Regions from separate parts of the Homo sapiens genome. Here region 1 is linked to region 2. The links come from fine-mapping of genetic effects on gene expression. A gene starts in region 2. The other region holds a variant in brackets. All regions are shown on one strand. Distances are from middle to middle. Region 1 holds the start of NPDC1 (neural proliferation, differentiation and control 1). Region 2 holds the start of SAPCD2 (suppressor APC domain containing 2).

What was found. PIP is the estimated chance that this variant, and not a neighbour inherited with it, causes the effect. A credible set is the group of variants that fine-mapping cannot tell apart.
Region 1: its variant is the best candidate, but not a certain one, in a credible set for the expression of SAPCD2 in prefrontal cortex (BrainSeq, PIP 0.73).

The regions. Positions count from the first base shown.
Region 1 is chr9:137,046,098-137,048,684 of GRCh38, forward strand. It overlaps NPDC1 (neural proliferation, differentiation and control 1), which reads right to left and starts at 80. Exons shown (of 9, transcript NM_015392.4): 1 at 1-80. ENTPD2 (ectonucleoside triphosphate diphosphohydrolase 2) reads right to left here. Exons shown (of 9, transcript NM_203468.3): 9 at 2,010-2,587. The coding sequence ends at 2,560. RefSeq lists enhancers at 145-814, 2,547-2,587. The variant T/A (reference allele first, on the strand shown) is at 977.
Region 2 is chr9:137,068,933-137,071,930 of GRCh38, forward strand. It overlaps SAPCD2 (suppressor APC domain containing 2), which reads right to left and starts at 1,625. Exons shown (of 6, transcript NM_178448.4): 1 at 958-1,625. The coding sequence starts at 1,528. RefSeq lists silencers at 953-1,002, 1,053-1,102, 1,273-1,682 and an enhancer at 1,787-2,766.

The DNA of each region.
Region 1 (2,587 bases), 23 kb before region 2:
GAAGAAGAGGCGGATGCCAAGGAGGAGGAGGAGGAAGAGGAAAGGCACGGGCGGCGGCGCTGACGCTGCAGCAAGGATCCGGGATGGAGGCGCCGGCGAGGCGCGCACGCGGAGACTGCGCCTGCGCGCTCCACCTGAGGGGGCGGGAGGGCGGCTCCAGACTGCGCCCCCTCCCCCTGCTCCAGTTCTGGTCCCCTCTCCGGGCCTCGCTGGACCTCTCTCGGCCTCAGGGTGTCTCGGCACCTGCGGTCTCTGGGGCCGGTGCGGTTCCCAGAAGTCCGGCTGGGTTTGGGCCGCGGGTGGGCTTCTCCAGGATGCGCTCCCTTCTGGCCTCTTCCCGGTAGGACTCCGAGCCCCTCACCCGCACCCGCGATGGGGCAGAGGACCTGTGTGGGCCTAGCCTCGCGAGCGCACAGAGACACAGGAGCGCCGGGCGCACGCAGACAGGTGCTCACGAGCTGGGCAGGTGCACAGGAAGGCACAGGTGTGCCCACAGAGGCAGGGGCACCCCCACTCGCGGGAAAAGCAAATACAGGAACACAGAACGGCCCCGGCCCCGACTGCAGCTTTGGCTGGAGCCGCGGCGGCCGCGCTCAGTGAGGCCACCAGGGGGCAAGAGTGATCCGGAGCCACTGAGGACCGGAGCTGGGAGCTGTCCAAGGTGTTCAGGGTCCCCAGGTGACAGCCCTTTAGCTCCCTCAGGACAATGGGCATCTTTTTTTTTTTTTTTCTTTGAGACAGCGTCTCTGTCGCCTAGCCTGGAGTGCAGTGGTGCCATTTCGGCCCACTGCAACCTCCACCTCTCGGGTTCAAGTGATTCTCGTGCCTCTGCCTCCTGAGTAGCTGGGATTACAGGCGCGTGCCACCATGCTGGGCTAATTTTTGTATTCTTAGTACAGACGGGGTTTCACCATGTTGCCTCAGCTGGTCTTGAACTCCTGACCTCAGGTGATACGCCAGCCTCAGCCTCCCAAAG[T/A]GCTGGGATTACAGGCGTGAGCCACTGTGCCCAGCTGACAACGGGCATCTCTGATGCCCCCCTTGCACCTCACCTGTTGCCTCCCAAGAGCACGCCCACCCCATCCCACTAGAAACCTCCTTTGACTAGTCATTCAGAGAACAAGAGTGAGACCTCCAACCCGGGGTGTCCCCTTGGTCCTTCCAGTCTCAGAACTCCAAAGCTGGGGCTGGCTGCCCTCAGGTTTATCAAATGACTTTAAAAAAAAATGGTGAAGAGGGGAGGGAAGAGCAGAATAAGAACCACCACCCTCCTCGCCAGGGCACTGAGCATAGAGACAGTGTCTAAGCTCACTTCCCAGGAAGGTGAGGAGGCGAGTGGGCAAGACCAGGCCTTCCCATCCTGGAGAAAACTGGCTTGGGGAGGGGCTGCAGGGCCTGGCTGGGGCTGCAGGATGCCTTTTGGAGGTGCAGGACACTCAGTCCCAGGTGAGAAGGGCAAGGTGCCCTGTGCCATTGCATGGCTCAGCTCCACAGCCAGGTTCTGTGCAAGATTCCTGCCTATGGGTCCTGGTCCTGATCTCATCTCCCACCCCTGTGCCACCTCCTGATGTGGGCCTGCCCTCCCGCCAGTCTCTACCAGCACTGACTGCCCCCTAGGAAGCCGCCTGGCTGGCTGCCACCCACTCTCCGCCACCTCCCTGACCTCTACCCTCACCCCCAGGCTCACTGTACCAGGACCCAACCTTCAGTCTGGCCTTGGTCACCAACGCAGATCTGGATGTGATGGTTTTGGGGAACTCTGCTGGCCAGAGAAGACTCAAGGGCCCAGGAACATTCCCTCGGGCCAGCCATCCTGCAGCTACTCTAGGCTGCCACGGCACACCAGGGCAGCAGCCAGTGCCCCAGGCCTGGCTCCAGAGCAGAAGGCAGTAGGGAGGGATGGTGTCCACCCTCAGGACCAAGGGCAGGCCCGTGCGGCTAGAACAGCGGGAAGGTGGGGGCACAGGCCACAGCAAGGATGCCCCACCCCACAGACACTCTCCTTTCACGTCTCTAGGAAAAACTTTTTATTACAAAATTTTTACAAGTAGGTGCTGGGCTGGCTGCCAGCCCGTGGGCTGTGACCCTCCCCAGTACAGACCCAGACTACACAGAAGGAGCCTCTAAGGGCTGATTCTCAGGACCAAGGCCCCACTCTCTGGAGACCCAGCCCTGAGGAGGAGGAGGAGGAGCACGGGGCCTGCAGTGATGCCCAGGCTGAAGCGGGCTGGAGGGGTTCAAGGAGCTGGATTGAGCGCTCTTTGCCCACCCAGGCTCCTGTGGGTACCAGAGTCTCAGTTCCTATTTCCTGGGCTGCCTTAGGGGCAGAGACGCTGAGGGTGGGGTGGAAGGATGGAGAAGACAGTGGTGGGGTGGAGCGGTGGGGGATAGAGGGTGGGTGGAGGAATGCAGGATACAGGGGCGGGGAGAGAGGTTGGGAGAGGGGTGGGTGGAGGGGTGGGGATACAGGGGTGGGAGGTACAGGGGTTGTGGGAGGGGTGGGAGTACGGGGTGGGGATACAGGGGTTGGGGGAGGGATGGGGCAGCTGCCCCCGTCGGCCCCTAAATGGTGCTTGGCAGCTTGGCGGAG
Region 2 (2,998 bases):
GGCCAGGGCCGCCGTGGCTCCAAACACCAGCTGTAGGGCTGGAGAATATGGCTGAGGTGGGGGAGCAGTACAGGGAGGGTGGCAGAGCAGCAGGCAGCACAGGGACCGGCAGGAGCCACCGGTGGGCAGGCCTCCCCTGGCAGAACGGGTGCACAGGCCGAATGGGCTGTGGGGCCTGGGGCCCCTCTGGGAGCTTGGCCCCCCAACCCCAGCCATAATACAGGTCCTGTTCCCAAGGCAGGCACTGGGTTGGGGGAGACAGGGGACCATTCAGCAATCTCCCATCACTGCCAACTGGACCGGAAGGCAGGAGAGGAGTGTGCCAGCCATCCCCAGGGACTACGGCCTATGTCCCTCCATGGCATCTGCCATAGTACAGCCCCACTGGGGTGCAGGAGATCCACCCACGCCCCTGCCCATCTTGGCAACAGGGCCAGGTCCTCTTGGGCCACCAGCAGCAGCCCCCGCCTGCCTAGGCCTCAGTGGGGTCAGTGGGCCCAGCCCCCCTGGCTAAGCTGTCACACTGAGAAGGGGGACCCTTTCTTTGAGAAGGAAGCACTTCTGCCTGAGCAGCCACAGACAGGAGGCTGAGGGCCCAGGTGTCCCCAGGTGCGGAAAGGGTATTGGAGATGGAGAGCCCAAGCTCAGGCTTGGTACAGGTTGGGCTCCCGGTGGGTTTTCTGAGTCACCTGCCACCCCCCGGCCCTGGTGGCCTTATGCTGTGGCAGGAGAGGGTCTGGCTTGCCTCCCTAAGCAAGCCCCTGGGCTCACCGCGACAAGCATGAAGCCCTTTCCCTCCAGACCCGCCGAGGCGCCCTCCAGGATCCGGAGTCCACGAAGAGCCGCTCCCCGGTCCCGTCCCTTGTGGGAAATGCACGGGCAGCAGCTGTGGGACTGCGGTTTCTGGCCCGGGCCCGGGAGAGCTACGAGGGTGCCCGGGGGCCGTCCGGAACTCACCTGCGTCCGCGCTGGAGCTCGGTTCCAGCGCCGCGCTCTGGGACCGCTCGGGCTCCGCGGGGCAGGGCGCCGCCTCAGCCGGGGCGCACAGCTGCTCCGGGCTGCGGGCGGCGGCGCTGGGACCGGCCAGAGGGGCGCGCACGCCCAGGGGCAGGGGCTTCCTCTCCAGGACCGTCCGCGGCTCGTCGGCCGGAGCGAACACCAGGCGCTGCGGCGGCGGCGGCGGCTGATCCCCGGGCCGGGCCGGGGCGCGCGTGGGGTCCCGGGGGCCGCCGTCGGCGCTCAGCAGGGAGGTGCGCAGGCCGGCCACGAAGCGCTCGAAGGTCAGGTAGCCGCTGGCCGGGGCCACCTGGCGCAAGCCCTCCAGCACCCCGCGGGGCAGCTCCCGCGCGTCGGTGCCCTGCCAGCGGGACTCGATCTCGCGCAGGTGCACGCAGCCGCGCCGCCGGTCGTCCAGGATGTCGAACAGGGTGCGCAGGCTCTGCAGGAAGGCGCGCGGCAGCCCCTCCGTGCTGGGCGCGGGTGCGGGGGGAGGCACGCGGCCCCGCTCGGCCATGGCGGCCCCGGCCATGGGCGCCCGGGATCGGTCCCCTCGTCCACCCGCGTGCGTCCCAGCGCGGCCCCACGGAGGGGCCGGCCCGGCGAGCTCAGCCCACGGCGACAATAGCGACTACTTTTGAATGGGGCCCTCCTCGCGGCGTCAGCCCTCATTAACATGCGCCGCGGCCATTGGCCGAGCCCGTCCCATCTGCTCTCTGATAGGCTGAGAGGAGGTTTGATTTTTTTTTTTTTTTTCTTGCCGAGTGGCCCTGGGAGGCGCGCGGAGGCCCTGGGCAGGCGGAACCGGATCCCCCAGCTCCTGCTCCACTCTGGCCTCGCAGACCTTCCTTTCTGCCCCGCCCCAGCCCCACCAAACCTCCTGCCGCGGCCAGGCGCTTTCTCGGATCCAGCTGTGGCTGGCTGCCCCGGCCACCTCTCCAAGGGGCGGGGCCTGGCACCCTACAAAAAAACCTGTCTCCAGGTAGCCTCGTGGGGTAAGAATGGGGGGGGGCACCCCCTCCAAAGATCCCACTTTTCCCCTCTAGTTCCCTGGCCGCAAGCACAGGTGACCCTGCGGCCCCCTTCTCTTCCACCAGGAGGGCCCCAAGAGGATCGTAGGCTCCAGCCAGCTGGGCGCTTCCCACTCACAGAGGCCTTTCTGTCCCCACTGCTGCTGGCTCCTCCTCTGGTCCCTCGGGACAGTCTGGCCTGGCCTGCCTGCTGCAGAACAAAGCCACTTTCTCCTGTGTCCCCAGATCCCCATCTAGTGACCAGCTCCCTCTGCCTCTTGCTCTCCTCTCCTCCTTCCCCTGGCTGGACACCTCCTCCAGCTGCTCTCCTGGCTCCCGCAGCCCTGTCCCCCTGCCTCTGCTGTGTTTCCAGCTGGGATCTGGTCACTCTGTCTTCATTTGGTCTGTCCACATGGGAGGTGAGACCAGGCCTTAGCCTGGGTTCTAGCCCTGGGAGCCCATCTCAGGGCTGGCCAGTAGTACCCTCTAGGTTCCAGGGAGGTGTTCAGGGTGCAAACACCCTCCCCAGACAGGCCCCCAATCCGAGACTTGCCTTGGCCCTCTGCGGGTCTCCCACCCTCCCTCCTGGGCAGGCCTCAGCTGGCATACCTACCTGGGTCTCTGTCCTCAGGCCTGAGCCACTGGTGCCTGTGTCTCAAGCTGTAGAGGCATCTTCCCAGGCCAGGGAGTATCCTGGGTCCACTTCTCTTCTGGGTCACTCACTCTAAGTGGGACTCCTTCATCGTAGGGAATGCTGGAAGGACATAAGAAGCTCTGAGCCTGGAGCAGCCCATCAGAGCTTGGTCCTGTAAGCCAGCTTCCCCTTTAATGGCTGGTCTGCTCAAAAACCCAGCACGAGGCCGAGGCGGGAGGATCACTTGAGCTGGGGAGTTCAAGACCAGCCTGGGCAACATAAGGCAACCCTATTTCTACAAAAAGTTTAAAAAATTAGCCAGGCGTGGTGGTGCATGCCTGTGGTCCCAGGTATTTGG